2 separate regions of the Homo sapiens genome follow, and region 1 is linked to region 2. The links come from fine-mapping of genetic effects on gene expression. Tissue or cell type: whole blood. Region 2 holds a variant in brackets; the other region holds the start of a gene. All regions are shown on one strand. Distances are between the middles of the regions.

Region 1 (8,168 bases), 76 kb after region 2:
TAGCCCCTGGTAGCCTCTATTCTACTTTCTGTCTCTATGAGTTTGACTACTTTAGGTACCTCATATAAGTGGAACCATACCATATGTGGCCTTTGTGTCTGGCTTCTTTCACTTAGCATAATGTTTTCAAGGTTCATCCATGTTGTAGCATGTATCAGAGTTTCATTCCTTTCTAAGGCTGAATAATATTTCATTGTGTGTATACACCAAATTTTGTTTATCCATTCATTTGTTGATGGACATTTGGGTTGTTTCCACATTTTGGCTATTGTGAATAATGCTGCTATGAACGGTGGTGTTCAAGTGTCTGTTACAGTCCCTGTTTTCCCTTCTTTGGGGTATATACCTAGGAGTGGAATTGCTGGGTCATATGGTAATTTTATGCTTTTTGAGAAACTGCCATGTTGTTTTCCACAGCAGCTGCACCATTTTACATTCATGCCAGCAATGTAGGAGGGTTCCAATTTCTCCACATCCTGGCCGGACACTGTATTATTATTATTTTTTTGGTTAATAGCCTTTCTAATGGGTGTGAAGTGGTATCTCATTGTGGTTTTGATTTGCATTTCTCTAATGACTATGATGTTAAGTGTCTTTTCATGTGCTTATTGGATATTTACATATATTCTTTGAAGAAATGGCTCTGCAAGTCCTTTGCCCATTTTTGACTTGGGTTTTTTGTTTTGCTGAGTTGAGTTGTAGGAGTTTTTTATATGTTCTGGATATTAATGCCATATCAAATATATTATTTGCAAATATTTTCTCCCATTCTGTAGGTTGCCTTTTCACTCTGTTGATAGTGTCTTTTGATGCACAAAAGTTTTTAATTTTGTTGAACTCCAATTTGTCTATTTTTTCCACCTGTGCTATTGTCATATCCAAGAAATTATTGCCAAATCCAATGTTGTGAAACTTCCCTGTCACGTTTTCTTCTAAGAGTTTTATAGTTTTACCTCTTATGGTTAGGTTTTTGATTCATTTTCAGTTAATTTTTGTATGTTATGTGAGGAAAAGATCCAACTCCATTTTTTTGCATATATATATATATATATATCCAGTTTTCCCAGCACCATTTATTGCAAAGACTATCCTTTCCCTCATTGAATGGTCATGGCACCCTCGTGGAAAATCAGTTGATCATATATGTTAAGGGTTATTTATGAGCTCCTTATTCTATCCCATTGGCATATATACCTGTCCTTACGCAGTACAGTTTCATAGTGAGTTTTGAAATCAGGAAGTAGGAGCCCTCCCAACATTGTTCTCCTTTTTCAAGATTGTTTTGGCTAGTGGCGAGGTGGGGGGGAAACTCCTTATCTGTATGAATTTTAGCATCATCTTGTCCATTTCTGCAAAAAAAAAAAAAGCCTGCTGGGATTTTGATAGGGATTGCATTGACTCTGTAGATCAATTTGAGGAGTATTGCTATCTTAATACTTTTATTTCAGTCTTGAATGTTTTTCAATGATGTTCTGTAGTTTTCAATGTACAAATCTTGCATTTCTTTTGTTAAATCGATTTTTAACTTTATTGATTTTGATGCTATTGTAAATGGAATTTTAACTTAATTTTCAGATTGTTTATTGCTAGTGTGTAAAACTATAACTGATGTTTAAATATTGATCTTATATCCTGCAGTTTTGCTGAACTTGCTTATTGGCTTTATTTTTTTTATAATGGATTTCCCAAGATTTTCTATATATAAAATCATGTCATGTGAAAGTAGCGATAGTTTAATTGTTCCTTTCTTATCTGGATGCCTTTCATTTCTTTTTCAGGCTAGAACTGCAAGTACAATATTGAACAGAATTGGTGAGAGGGGACATCCTTGTTAAAGGTGCACTTTTGATAGGGTTAAAAGACCAGTGTTCAACACTTTCCAATCCTGACTTCGGGCAAATCATTTACCCTTTCTGTTTCCTTATCTAAAATAGAAAATAACAGCCTATAGTGTACGCGGGTGGTCGTGTCTGCTTTTTAGAAGCCCATGAGCTAGTGGGGAAGCAAATGATTCATGGAAATAATTATAAAAACAAGGTAACATATGCTAAGAGTTATTAGGGCTATGAATGATACATCTTGGATACCCTATTAGATAATTTGTGGTGAAAAATTTGTAAACAATCTTGTGCTAAATAGAGAAATGGTTTAAAAATTTAAGATACCAATAACTTGCTTTCACTGTCACCTACATTAGTTTGGTTCCATTTTTAACAGTCTTTTATTACAAACTGATATAATCATAGCATAACTAAATTCAACCCTCTTCTCTATAAAATAGATCTCGGTTTGTAGGGTTTTACTATGATTTTGCATGCCATTTGATGTCCACAGGTATTTTTTAAGTCAAAAGGAAATCTGTAAATTAGGAACTGTTAATTTCCTCTTCATTTGGGCATCCTAGGTAGACTGTACAGATTTGTTCCAAGCACCCCATTAATTTGAGATTAGCCTAAGTTTTTCCTATGCCCGCACTTTGGAATATAAACATGTAGAAAATAGTCCATGACACAGCGGATGGGTTCATAAGTTTCTTCCGGGTCCTAACACCGAATTGTGCTGATGATCTGGCAATGGAGGCTAATCTTGCCACATCAAGTACGGCCTATTCGCTAAGCCGTCTGGGGCACTTTATAATTTTTTTCTTTGCTGGTCTGTTTGAAGGGCTCCTATGGCCAAAAAGGTGGTCAGTCCCGTCAGCTAGGCTGTGAGGACGCCTAAACGCTTTGAGGACGCCTAAACGCTTTGAGGTAGTGATGATGCATGATCGTGTGAAAGAGTTTCTCAGAGCACCTCCCTCGCGGGGTGGGGAAAAGGACCTCACTCCCCACGCCCCCTCCTTCCGCTGCGGGAGATAGCCACACCTTCCCCCTATCGGCGCCAAGCAGGTGGCCAGGCCCTCGGGACCTCGCGCCCCCGCAGCCAGTGGCCCGGCCAGCTCGTGCGTCACGTGACGCGGGTCAGCTGCACCGCCGGGACCTCCAGGCACCGCGGCGGCGACCGCCCAGCGCGTGGTCTCGAGATCTCATCTTTCCGCGCCCCTCCCCCCACGGTCCCGGAAAAGGGGGAGGCCGGTGACGTCATCATCCGGGTTCTTGTCGGCGGGGCTACGGTTCACAATGGAACAAAAACAAGCGGCCCGAGTCAAACTATGAGCGACGCGGCTGCGGCTCACGCGATTAACCCTGTCGTGGCCACACACCCCGCCAGTCCCTGCCGCCCAGCCCCTCCCGAGTGGTGTGCCAGATCTTTTCGGGCCTCCCTTCCCCAACTTCGGTCCTAGAGCCACCTCTGCCCTCGTCCCGCTCCTGAGCCGAGGGGCATGGAACAGGATTTCTGGCCGTAGCACGACCCTGAAGGGGCCAGCCGGAAGAAACAGTACTGCGCGAACAATCTTTACCGCATTGTCTTCCCCTCCCCCACCCTAGCTCTCCGGGTTCCCGGCGGCTCGCGCCGAAGCCCGGCCCCCTCAGCGGCTCGCGCTGCTCTCCCAGCCTTGACGGCCCGGGGTGGAGGGAGAGAAGAGGGGGCAGCTGAGCGGGAGGGGGCTGGGCAGGAGCAGGGGGAGGGCCGAAAGGAGGGGCCTGAAAGGGGCGGGCCCTGACGGGGGCGGAGAACTTCGGGTCTTGGGCGGCTCTGGGGCTAGTGGGAGTCTGCGCCGCCGCCGCCGCCGCCACCGCTGCTGCCGCCGTCGCCGCTACCGCCGCCGCCACTGGCCGAGCGGTTTTTTTTTTTTTGGTTTGCCGGATCCGCCATATTGACGAGGACGGGCATCCGCGGCTGCGGACGCTAGTCTCCGCCGCCGCCGGAGCCGCAACCTCTCCGCACCCGGCCCCGTCAGGGCCTCTGTCGCGCCTAGCCCCTCCCCGCCTTACACAGCTCCCGGGCCTCGCGGGAGCCCGCCGCCGCCGCCTCTCTCTCACGGGAGGCGGCCGCCTTAGCGCCCGGTGCTTGGGTCGGCGCCGGGAGCGAGGAGCGAGCTACTTCAAAGCCACCAGGCCTGGAGCGGGGACAGAGGCGGCGACTAGGGGAAGGTGAAGCCGTCGCTGCAGGAGGAGGAGCAGGAGGAGGTGACGCAGGAGAAACGCACCGCCCGGAGCCCGTCTGAGCTCAGCGAGAGCCCCAGCCTGAGGGGAGAAGGGGAAGAGGGCCGTCGCCGGCCAAGGAGGAGGAGGAGGCGGGCGCGGCGAGGAGCGAGTTCCGGCGCCGGTGTGCAGCCTTTTGGTTGAGACGCCCGCAGCCCCGAGCCCGGCCGCCGCAGCCTTTCGATACACTTTGTTGCCGGTCACCCCCGGGCCTGGGATGCACCCAGGGTAGGTCTCGTCCCGGGACCGAGCCCCACCGTCGCCTGGTGCCTCCCGCCTCCGTGTGCCCTGGTTGTGAGAAGACGTCTGTGTCGTGCGGTGAGTGGCCAGCTGCACTGGGGCGACGCTCTTTCCCGGGGCCAACAGCTGGATGTGGGTGAGGGGAGGAGGGCGAGGGGGGTGTGCGTGTGTGCGAGCCTCTTCCCTCGGCGGCTGCCGGCCAGGCTGGGGCTTCCCCGTTCCCCCTCCTCCGGCCCGGGCTGGGCGGGCGCGCGGGCCCGTGTTGTGTGTGGAGCCGGTGTCCCGAGAGCGTGTCTGTGTGTTTTGGACTGTAAGGGAAAATGGCTGACGGCTCCGTCCCTCCCCCTCCTCCCCCTTCCCGTCCTGTCTGGGGCCGAGTAGGAGGATGGAGTCTCCGGGCGTGGCGGGCAGCCCCCCCGCCGTCCGCACCCGGGGGCCGGGTCGGTTTGGGGGCTGGCCGCCCCCCGCCCGGCGGCCGCTTTCCTACCCGGTCTGGTTCCACTTGACACCAAACGCCATTACTGAGGTGGAGTGATTTGGAGCTGGGGAGCTAGGCCTCGGCTACGCCTGGCTATCAGGCCTGACGACTTGTCCGCCTCCCCCCACCCTCCCGCGATAACCCGCAGTTTCTCCCCGGCCCTGGGCTCCTGGAGTGGGAGCTGGGTTATCGGCCTCCTACACCTCCTTCGCCCCGCTTTATTTGCAGAGGGCCAAAGCCGTGAAAGGGGTTTTTGAATGCAGAAATCGCTTCCAAGCTAGCTTGGACCTATTACCTTTCTATTTTTAACTGTTTCTGCAAATATTAGCATGTGCGAGTTTGGTAGTGATCAGGTCTTCAGATTCTTGTGACGTGAGGCTTAGGGTTGGATAAATGGCTGATTTTTCATTCATTGTGAAATAAGTTAAAGAGTTATACAGCAGGTGTGTAGATGGCTTCTTAAATTATTTGTGTGGATTTCTGTAGCGACTAGAACTTACACGAGAATTTGCAAAATTTCTAGTAGAACCTGCTTAAATTAAGCATGTTATTTTTTGGAAGTTCCATAGTTACAACGTTAATTGAATTTACACGGTGCAGTTTACAGGTGTATATAATTGCTTCAGATTGTCTTTTAGTTTAAATAAGCAAGTTGTAGGTATAGATTAAATATTCATGCTTTATTTTTCGGGGAGAGAAGTATGTGTACTGTTCTTTTACCTGGAAACCCATGAGTCCCTAAATCTACTTAACGTTTGTATACTTTCACTTTTGAGGAAGAATGATTTGGGGTGCATTGATTAGGAAACTTTCCAGCAGGTACTTAACCCTCTCGGAGCTGATTACCCTTAGGTAAGGACTCCTTAACCATGACTAGCTTGGCTGGTTAGTACACTTGAACTCAAAAATAGAGACTATAAACTCTCCTTTAGATCTCGCTCGTCTTCTAATTCGCTGGGCTGCCATTTTGGTTTCAGCAAATACCTTCAAATTCTTGAAGAATTATGTATTAAATATAAAAAAGTGTCAACATTCGTTTTCTCAATTTTTAAACTCATGTGCTGTGTCATACATCTAACTTTAACCCTTTAAACTTTATCGTTCCAGCTTTTGGGTGGAGTGAAAGCTTGAAGTATTTGGAATTGGTGTTCCACAGGTGAACTCAAAATGTCTTTGGTATTTTACTGTTTTATTTTCTCTAATTTAAAAATAGGACGTTTGGACTATATGAATTCTCTCTACCCCTTTTCTTGTATTTTTTTGCATGAACATGTAACTTGTAATTCTGGTTATCAGCGTTCTCATGTTTCTTTTGTTTGCTGACCTTGGTAGTTTCTGAGAATTTCTGGAGGGAGTAATAGCACCAGCAACAGTACATGTGAGAATCTTAAGTTACTTCAGGAAGGAACATTGAAGGGCAGATTTTACCTTTCACCAGGTTATTGGGGTCTCTAGTTTGGTGTTCCATAGTCCATAGTTCTCATGGTTTTGTTTGTTTGTTTTTTTGTCTGTCGCCCAGGCTGGAGTGCAGTGGCACGATCTCGGCTCACTGCAACGTCCACCTCCCGGGTTCAAGGGATTCTCCTGCCTCAGCCTCCCTGGTAGCTGGGACTACAGGCGCGTGCCATCACGCCCGGCTAATTTTTTGTATTTTTAGTAGAGACGGGGTTTCACCGTGTTAGCCAGGATGGCCTCGATCTCCTGACCTCGTGATCCGCCCGTGTCGACCTCCCAGTTCTCATGTTTTATCTATGGAATGCTCAAGTAGGATTTACTTTAGATCTTTTTTCTTCCAGAGTCTTGTTTTTAATATCTTAAGGTATGAGATTTCTTTGCTATCTTCTCAGAGATTTTTCTTTGACATGGTGGTAATAATGCAGCTTATGGTTTTGAAATGGATGTTTGTCATGAATTTGCTAATCATCCAGTTCTTGATTAGTTGGTCACACAACAAGTGTCTTTGAGCTTATTTTTATTTAATAAGATCAATTTCTAACGTTTTAGTTTCAAAATTTTAGTATTAAAACCAATCTTTGTTTAAAACAGATGTTAAGAATTAGTTATTTGAAATATCTAGCAGTGTGTGTTAATGGATTAGTGTTCTTCTAAGTCTTTTGGGCAGTGAAGGTGAGGGGGGTCTTATCCTGAGATTGAGTTAGTTGATTTTTATTCTGAAAGAACGTATTACTTTTTATGGTAGCCTACATTATGTTTCCCCTCTTGTAGGTATGTTTTCTGAGTCTTGAATTGTTTTTCTTTTTTTTTTCAAAAAGGGAAAAAACCGGATTTTAGTTGTCATTTGGTTCTTTTAGGAGCTGTGTTTTTGAAAGCCATCCTGTGTATTGCTAAGTTCTTGTATTATTTTAACATAGAGTTTAACGTTAATATTTGGGAAAGAGTTAGTGCATTGGACCTCAACCCTGACTGGACATGAGAATCACTTGGCGGGGTTAAAAAACAACCACAACAAAAAAACTGATCCCTGGGTTCCACCCCCAGAGACTGATTAATTGGTCTGATAGGGAGCCTGGGCAAAGGTATATTTTAAAAGCATTGTGGATGATTCTTACATGCATTTGGAGTTGAAAACCACTGGGCTATTGTTTTTATCATGTTGTTAGAACTTTCAAGTGGATAAATAAGAAAATGGATTTTTTTCTCAATTGTTTTCAGTTATTAGCATGATTATCATTTGAGCATTAATTGTCTGTCAGCACTGTTAAGCATTTTCCATTTATTGCCTTACGATGGGTCTGAGGTCTGTCAGGTTCAACCAGTGGTGCTTCGACTACTGTGCTATGTTAGTGAAATGACACTGATTGCTATTTTTAAAAAAGCATTTAGAGCTTTTGGTTTGTTTCTCGTACCAGAGTAAGTTAAGATATAGTTTAGTTTTTAAGACTATCAAGATAGTCTCCAATTTGATAAATATCTTGGTTGCCCAAGGGAGATGTTAAAAGCTATGTGGCAAATAGGTTTCTCCCCTTCCATATATCTTCCAGCGTGCTCAGGGTGATAGTTTAGTTGGTGCGTTTATGACAAAATATTACACAACATTCCTAAAAGGTGTAGAAACTATGCATTTGTCTCCTAGTAATTTATTTAAATGATCCCACAAATTACCGTTTAGTGTCACATGAAATTCTGTTATCTCAGTTTGAGAATTTAGAGTTTTATTTGTCTTAGTCAAAATCAGTTTGATTTTGATTAAGCGTTTTGAATTTTGTGTTGTTTTGGGATTGATGTATAATTGTTTTATGGAACGAATGAAATAACAATAACAGACATTTATTTGGAGTTTCTGTCTCTTAATCCCCTTGGTCCATTGGACCAAATTCTGCATGGTGGGGGCATGGCAGCAGGGA
Region 2 (8,193 bases):
TCTCACTCCATCTCCCAGGCTGGAGTGCAGTGGCTCAATCATAGCTCACTGCAGCCTCGAACTCCTGGGCTCAAGTGATCCTCCCACCTTAGCCTCCTTGGTAGCTGGGACTACAGGCATGCATGACCACGCCTGGCTAATTAAAAAAAAAAAAAAAATTGGCCGGGCGCAGTGGCTCACGCCTGTAATCCCAGCACTTTGGGAGGCGGGCAGATCACGAGGTCAGGAGATCATGGCTAACATGGTGAAACCCCATCTCTACTAAAAATACAAAAAATTAGCTGGGCGTGGAGGCGCCTGTAGTCCCAGCTACTCGGGAGGCTGAGGCAGGAGAATGGCGTGAACCTGGGAGGCGGAGCTTGCAGTGAGCCGAGATTGTGCCACTGCACTCCAGCCTGGGCGACAGAGCGAGACTCTGTCTCCAAAAAAAAAAAAAATTTAATTTAAAAATAAGGGTCTCCCAGGCTGGTCTCAAACTCCTGGCCTCAAACCATCCTCCTGCCTCTGCCTCACAATGTGCTAGGATTACAGACGTAAGCCACCATGCCCAGCCTTTGTACCTAAACTCTTTATCTTCTCACTCAAGCAGCCCTGAAAATTCCAAATGCCTCCTGCTTATTTTTATTTTTTATTTTTATTGAGACAGAGTTTCGTTTTGTCACCCAGGCTGCAGTGCAGTGGCACAATCTTGGCTCACTGCAACCTCCGCCTCCCAGGTTCAGGCGATTCTCCTGCCCCAGCCTCCCAAGTAGCTGGGATCACAGACGCACTCCACCTTGCCTAGCTAATTTTTGTATTTTTTATAGAGATGGGGTTTTGCCATGTTGGCCAGGCTGGTCTCGAACTCCTGACCTCAGGTGATCCACCTGCCTCAACCTCCCAAAGTGCTGGGATTACAGGCATGAGCCACTGCGCCCAGCCCCTCCTGCTTATTATTTAATCCCTCCCAAATCCCAGGCAGCAGCTTCCTCCTTAAAACATCTTCTTCATTTAGCTTCGAGAACGCTACATTCTCCTGGTTTTCTTCCTCACTCACTGGCTCATTCTCTTCATCCTGACCTCTCAGCATCAGGGTGTCCCAGTATGCAGACTTTAGATCTCTTCTCTATTATTGCTCACTCCTGCATGAGCTCACCCAGTCTAACGGCTTTAAATACCCTCTATACACTAATGAGTCTCAAATTTGTATTTTCTGTCCTGACCTCCAGACTCATGTGCCCAATTGCTCCACTAAAAATACAAAAGTATTGGATAGAACCTAAATAACCCAGTTTGAATGGTTATTCTGTATCTCATTCTTTTTCTTTTTTTTCTTTTTTTTTTGAGACAGGGTCTCACTCGGTCGCCCAGGCTGGAGTGTAGTGGCACACTCTCGGCTCACTGCAACCTCCACCTCCCGGGCTCAAGCGATGCTCCTGCCTCAGCTTCCCAAGTAGCTGGGATTATAGGTGCGCACCACCATGCCCAGCTAATCTTTTTGTATTTTTAGTAGAGATGGGGTTTCGCCATGTTGCCCAGGCTGTATCTCATTCTTAATCTGTCCATAATTAAATTCTGCATTATTCCCAAACCTGCTCCTGCCTAGCATCCCCCTTCTTAGTAAATAACGGCTCCATTCTTCCACTTGCTCAGGCCAAAAACCTTGAAGTCATCCTTGACTCTCATCTTTCTATTACAATTCACATTTGACCTCGTAGCAAATCCCTTCAGCTTTGCTCTTATAGTGTTATTGCCTCTGACCACTTCTCACCTTCTCCACTGCTGCCCTGCCCTGGTCCAGCCTCCTGACAGCCTCCTGGATGGACCACTTGCAATAGGTCTTAATTGGTCTCTCTGTGTCCACTCTTGCCCAGCTGTAATTTACTCCTCATGGATAGCCTTTCAATATTTAAGCCAGCAAAGGTCATGTTCCACTTCAAAACTTTCCAATGGTTTCCCACCTGACTTGACCCAAATCAAAAGCCAGTGTGATCTGTCCCCTGGCTTTCTCTCCAACCTCAGCTGCTATCACCCTCCCTGCTTGCTCACCATGCTCCAGCCACATTGGTCTCCCTGCTGTCCCCTGAATAAAGAAGTTCATTCTCAGGAGGCTGAGACGAGAGGGTCGCTTGAGCCCAGGAGTTCAATGTTACAGTGAGCTATGATCATGCCACTGTATTCCAGGCTGGACGATAGGGTGAGACCTTGTCTCAGAAACGAAGTTCGTAAACTTCCTTCTCATCTTCGGCCTGTGTATTACTTTCTCCGCTCCTGAAATGTTCTGCCTTCAAATATCAGCATAGTTTCCTGCCTTTGTTCATTCATGTCTCTGACCCAACGGCACCTCCTCAAAGAGGCCCCCCCTTGACCACCTTATCTAAAAATAGCACCCATATTACTCTCTAATCCTTGACGCTGCTTTATTTTCCCTCTTGGTACTTAATCTGACATTTGGTGACATTTTTCATCTTTATATTTATTTATTTATTTATTTTGAGATGAAGTCTCGCTCTGTCGTCCAGGCTGGAGTGCAATGGCACAATCTCAGCTCACTACAACCTCCACCTCCTGGGTTCAAGCAATTCTCCTGCCTCAGCCTCCCGAGTAGCTGGCCTTACAGGCACGTGCCACCACGCCCAGCTAATTTTTGTATTTTTAGTAGAGATGGGGTTTCGCCATGTTGGCCAGGCTGGTCTTGAACTCCTGACCTTGGGTAATCCGTCCACCTTGGCCTCCGAAAGTGCTGGGATTACAGGCGTGGGCCACCGCGCCTGGCCCATTTTTCATTTTTAGATTGCCTCTTTCCCCCATGAGGGCAGGAACCTGGTCTGTTTTGTTTATTGCTATATTCCTATTATCTGGAAGAAGAACTGACACAGAAGGGGTGCCACAAATTCTTGTTAATTCTCTTCGTTTACGTTATGCAAGGTTCAAGTTCTTCCCAAATAGAATATAGCATGGAAGTTCTCGCAGGTGCTCTCTCTCCTCAATGCAAGACATGGCCACCTCTGAGATACAGTTGGCTCACCCCTAAAATGCTAAAGCCCAGCGATCACACAGGCGCACATATTAGAGCACTTCCTTCTCATAAACTTCCAGAAGCAGAATTACTAGATCATGAGCTAAACTCCCAAATTAACCTCCTGAGAGGTCAATGCTAATTCCTTTCCCATCAGCAGTACTCCATTACGGTGTACTCTGGGCCTTCAGGCAAATAATAATGATGATGATGATGATGTTGATGATGATGATGATAGTGTCCTCTTCACTCTTTGTTAACTGGAAAATAAACAGATCTTTTTAGTGGCAGGGAAACTTCTGGGTTATCAGGACTAGTGAGGTCCTGGGATGGGCTTTTAGGAGAAAAGAAGCTCTTCTGGCAGCTTCCATCTCTGAAATTATGTCCCCACCAATACTGTAAATTGTTTCCCCATGATGCCAAGTCATGTTTATTCAGGAATTCATTCACTTCATAATTCCTTTTGAGTATGTATTTTGTACGTAAACTCCAAACTTTTGCCAAGCTCAAGAATATTCCTTGAAATAAAGGAATTTGGCCAGGCATGGTGGCTAACACCTGTAATCCCAGCACTTTGGGAGGCGGAGGCGGGCTGATCACCTGAGGTCAGGAGTTTGAGACCAGCCTGGCCAACATGGCGAAACCTCGTCTCTACCAAAAATGCAAAAATTAGCCAGGCACAGTGGCAGGCGCTTGTAATCCCAGCTACTTGGGAGGCTGAGGCAGGAGAATCGCTTAAACCTGGGAGGCGGAGGTTGCAGTGAGCCGAGATTGTGCCGTTGCACTCCAGCCTGGGCGACAGAGCGAGACTCTGTCCTCCCCGTCCCCGCAAAAAAAAAAAAAAAAAAAAAAAAAAGGAATTTATAACTATCCTGGCATTTAGCAGTTTACAGGGGGGTTTCACTTCCGTTTTCTCATTTGGACCATGCAAAAGCCAACTGAGTACAATTCTGCCCATTTTACAGATGAACAAACCAGAGGCACAGAGGAGAGGGATTTGCCCGAGGCTACACAATACCTGTGAGTCACAGCCAGGACTAAGGATCCTGTGAGCTTCTCAGCACATGCCACTCCTTCCTACAACACCCTGCCAGGTCCACCACCTCCGTAAGTGGAGAATCTTAACGAAGGGCGACCTATGCACGCACCTGACTTCTGAGCTGAGGAACAGTAGAATGAAGGAGTTATTTTTAAATGGCTTTTACCGAGCCTGTGATGTCATTTCATTGATCACGCTGGGAGATGCGGTGCTGAGTTGTGCTATGGCAACTCGATTAAGGCTGGGAACTCCATTTCCTAGAAGCCCCTCCCTGCTGTGTTTCCGGGTTAGAGTTGGCCAAAAGAGAACCTTGTGCAAGAATTGTAGGGCGGAAGGCGAGCAGCAGTCACTGCCC[C/T]TGGCAGGTTTCCCGTCAGATACAGTGAAGGACAGAAACAGAGGGGCCCTGAGAGGCCCTGCAGCTCCCGGTTTATCCGGCTCTCTCCTCTGCTCCCTCCCAGCTAACATTTCCTGCTGTTGGCTCTGCTACCCAACAGCTGCCTCGGGCCCACCACCAGGGGCTTGGCTGTCGCCCCACATGGGGCGGGAGCTACGTAGAGGCCACAGCTCCCATAAACCTCTCCACGAACTCCCCCTCCGCGGCCCTGCTTCGGTGGCTAGATGTGCTTTGGCTTCTGGAATTTTCCTGCAAGCTCTGATTTGTCCAACTGCACCAGTGCTTCCGGCAACGGCTAGTGACTCTCTGATCTTCTGACTCCTCCTTCCAGACATTCACTTCCCCAGCTCTTCCCACAGCTGTGAACGGTTTTATTCCTAGAATACTCACAGTGGCTCTGTTTCCCTGGCTGAATCCTGTTACGATACTTACAGATTCTGCTTTACATGAAAAACAGCATAAGAAAAAAAAAATGTTCTGGAGTGTAAGGCAGAATTCCACCTGATACTTAGAATCTATATATCTCATGTGCTTGATTTATAGATTGGATATGTGGGAACTAAGGAAAGAAGATTATTCAATGAACCAGTGGAGGAAGAATCGTGTATGCTTTCAGTGTAGACCAAACTGGGGAAATAGATGAGAAAGGAATAACTGAAAAGACATAACCTTCTTTATCTTGTTTTTCTAAGCTCAAAAGATGGAAGAGGGGAAGGAATTGGTAGTGAAGCCATTTTTGTAGTCTGGAAATTTTCTGTCAAGTTTTACATAATTCCTTAGGGCATACCAAAGAAAATAATCAGTCCTGTCTACCCTCTAAGTAACTATCTTCTCTTGAAAGAGAAAGGAGTGATTCTTATTTAGGAAATCTAGTTCTTTAAATATAAAATACGAAATTGAGCCTGGGCAACATAAGGGAGACCTTGTCTCTACTAAAATTCAAAAAGAATAAAAATTAGCCAGGGGTGGGGCGCAAGCTGATAGTCCCAACTATTTTGGGGGCTGAGGTGAGAAGATCGCTTGAGCCCAGGAGGTTGAGGCTGCAGTGAGCAATGATCTCACCGCTGCACTCCAGCCTGGGTGATACAGTGAGACCCCATCTCAAAATAGATACATTAATTAAATTAAATGTGAAATTACACGTGAACAGGAGCAAACCGATGTTCAAGGATTCTTAAACATTATAAAACCAACAGGACAATATCTACCTGGTTAATGCTGAGGTGAATAGTCAAGGCTCTAATGTTAATAAATAAATACATCAAAGATCTTTTCCTTTCTCTTCCTTATTGTAGCCTCCTCTCTTTGCAACAGAGAAAGGAGGTCTTAGAACAGTTTCCAGTGGAGAAGAATTTTGAAATTCAGCGTTTTCTTCCTAGCAGTCTGTATGTATGTGAATGTTCTATGCCATTGTTCTTTCAAAATCATACTTGTTTGTCTCCCTCTTCCACCCTCACGCAGTGAGCGTTTTCACCCAGTGTCTTTAAAACATGCCTGCCTCAGGTGGCTGGTCACTTTATCAAATAAAAGGTGGCTGGCTTTGCCAATTTCTTTTCCCTACTCTGCATTAATAAGCCTGGCTCACAGTGCAGTAGAATTTTATTTCCACCAAGCAAATACAGATTGCTTTCTCCTTGGCTGCTTTTTAAAAGTCTTCTCACTCTCACTTGTGTCTAGATCATCCACCCATCCCTGCAGCACTAATGCTGACAGTGGCCAAGAGTATGAAATGTTCTCAAGCCAGTCCTGAGCCCGCAGATTCCTCCTCGGCCACTGGTCACAGGAGTGCACAGGGGGACCACTGTGCAACCCAGACAACCACCAGCTCATCCTCACAAAGAAGAGATCGTCTCCACTCCTGGGACCCCCTGAGACTCCCAGGGACCCAAACTCTTGGCTCTTGGCTCTGCCTGGAGTTTTATCTCCAGCTTGCTGGGTTTACTACCAGAGTCCTAGTTCTCTAGGGCTGCCGTAACAAAGTACCACAAACATGGTGGCTTCAAACCACAGAAACGCATCCTCTCGCACTTGTGGAGACCAGGCATCCAAAACTAAGGTGTCCACAGGGCTGTACTCCTTCTAGCTTCCGATGGTTGCCAGCAATCTTTAGCATTCCTTGGCTTATGTCCGCATCACTCCAATCTCTGCCTCTGTTGTCACAACTCCTCTGTGTAGCTGCATCTTCTCTTCTGTCTCAAGTCTCTCTCTGTCTCTCCCTTTTTTATTTTTATTTTTATTTTTTTTGAGACAGGGTCTCGCTGTCACCCAGGCTGCAGTGCAGTGGCGTGATCATAGCTCACTGCAACCTCTAACTCCTGGGCTCAAGTGATCCTCCTGCCTCGGCCACCCAAAGTGCTGGGATTACAGGTGTGAGCCACTGTGTCCAGTTTATAAGTTTTATGAGTTTATAAGTGCCCTAATAAGGACACTTGTCATTGGAATTTAGGGCCCACCTAGATGATCCAGGGTGATCTCCTCATCTTGAGATCCTTAACTTAATTACACCTGCAAAAACCCTTTTGCCAGATAAGGTCACATTCACAGGTGCCGGAGTTAGGAATGAGAACACATCCCTTGGGGGCCGCCCCTCAATCCACCAGGCTTTGTCTGCCTGGACTCAGAAGTATTTCCTTTCCAGTTTTTTTTTTTCTTTTTTTTTTCGATACGGAGGCTTGCTCTGTCGCCAGGCTGGAGCGCAGTGGCGCGATCTCGGCTCACTGCAACCTCTGCCTCCCGGGTTCAAGCGATTCCCCACCTCAGGCTCCCTGGTAGCTGGGACTACAGGCACGCGCCACCACACCCGGCTAATTTTTTGTATTTTTAGTAGAGACGGGGTTTCACCATGTTGGCCAGGATGGTCTCGATCTCCTGACCTCATGATCCGCCCGCCTCGGCCTCCCAAAGTGCTGGGATTACAGGCGTGAACCACTGCGCTTGGCCTTTCCTTTCCAGTTTTAAAGAATTTTCAGGCCAGGTGTGGTGGCGTGGTGGCGCGTGCCTGTAATTCCAGCTACTCAGGAGGCCGAGGCACGAGAATTGCTTGAACCCAGGAGGTGGAGGTTGCAGTGAGCCAAGATCGTGCCACTGCACTTCAGCCTGGTGACAGAGCGAGACTCTGTCTCAAAAAAAAAAAAAAGAATTTTCTGGCTGGTGCTAAGGTTCACACCTTTCACGCCTGTAATCCCAACGCTCTGGGAGGCCAAGGCAAGAGGATCTGTTGAGCTCAGGAGTTCAAGACCAGCCTAGGCAACATAGTGAAACCCCTGTATCTACAAAAAATTTAAAAATATCCAGATGTGGTGTGCATGCCTGTAGTCACACCTACTCTGGAGGCAGAGGTGAGAGGATTCCATGAGCCCAGGAGTTTGAGGCTGCAATGAGCTATGATGGCACCACTGCACTCCAGCCTGGCCCACAGAACGAGACACCGTCTCTTAAAAAAATAAACAAATGAAAAATAAAGGCCAGGCACAGTGTAGTCCCAGCACTTTGGGAGGCCAAGTTTAGCCTGGCCAACATGGCGTAACTCCATGTCTACTAAAAATACAAAAAAAAAAAAAAAATTAGCCAGGCATGGTGGCACATGCTTGTAATCCTAGCTACTCGGGAGGCTGAGGTAGGATTGCTTGAGCCTGGGATGTTGAAGCTGCAGTGAGCCGTGATCACGCCACTGCACTGCAGCCTGAGCGACAGAGTAAGACCCTGTCTCAAAAAAAAAAAGTTAAGCCAATATATTTCCTCTCCTTTAAGAGGCAGCTTATG

What was found. PIP is the estimated chance that this variant, and not a neighbour inherited with it, causes the effect.
Region 1: it holds the start of USP9X, and the variant in region 2 is fine-mapped to the expression of USP9X in whole blood (TOPMed, PIP above 0.99).

The regions. Positions count from the first base shown.
Region 1 is chrX:41,081,707-41,089,874 of GRCh38, forward strand. It overlaps USP9X (ubiquitin specific peptidase 9 X-linked), which reads left to right and starts at 3,739. Exons shown (of 45, transcript NM_001039591.3): 1 at 3,739-4,403. RefSeq lists enhancers at 2,690-2,984, 2,734-3,273, 3,812-4,349 and silencers at 2,894-2,963, 3,394-3,773, 4,474-4,933.
Region 2 is chrX:41,005,988-41,014,180 of GRCh38, forward strand. No RefSeq gene overlaps it. Among named protein-coding and RNA genes, the nearest start is that of USP9X, 75 kb to the right of the region's middle. The variant C/T (reference allele first, on the strand shown) is at 4,393.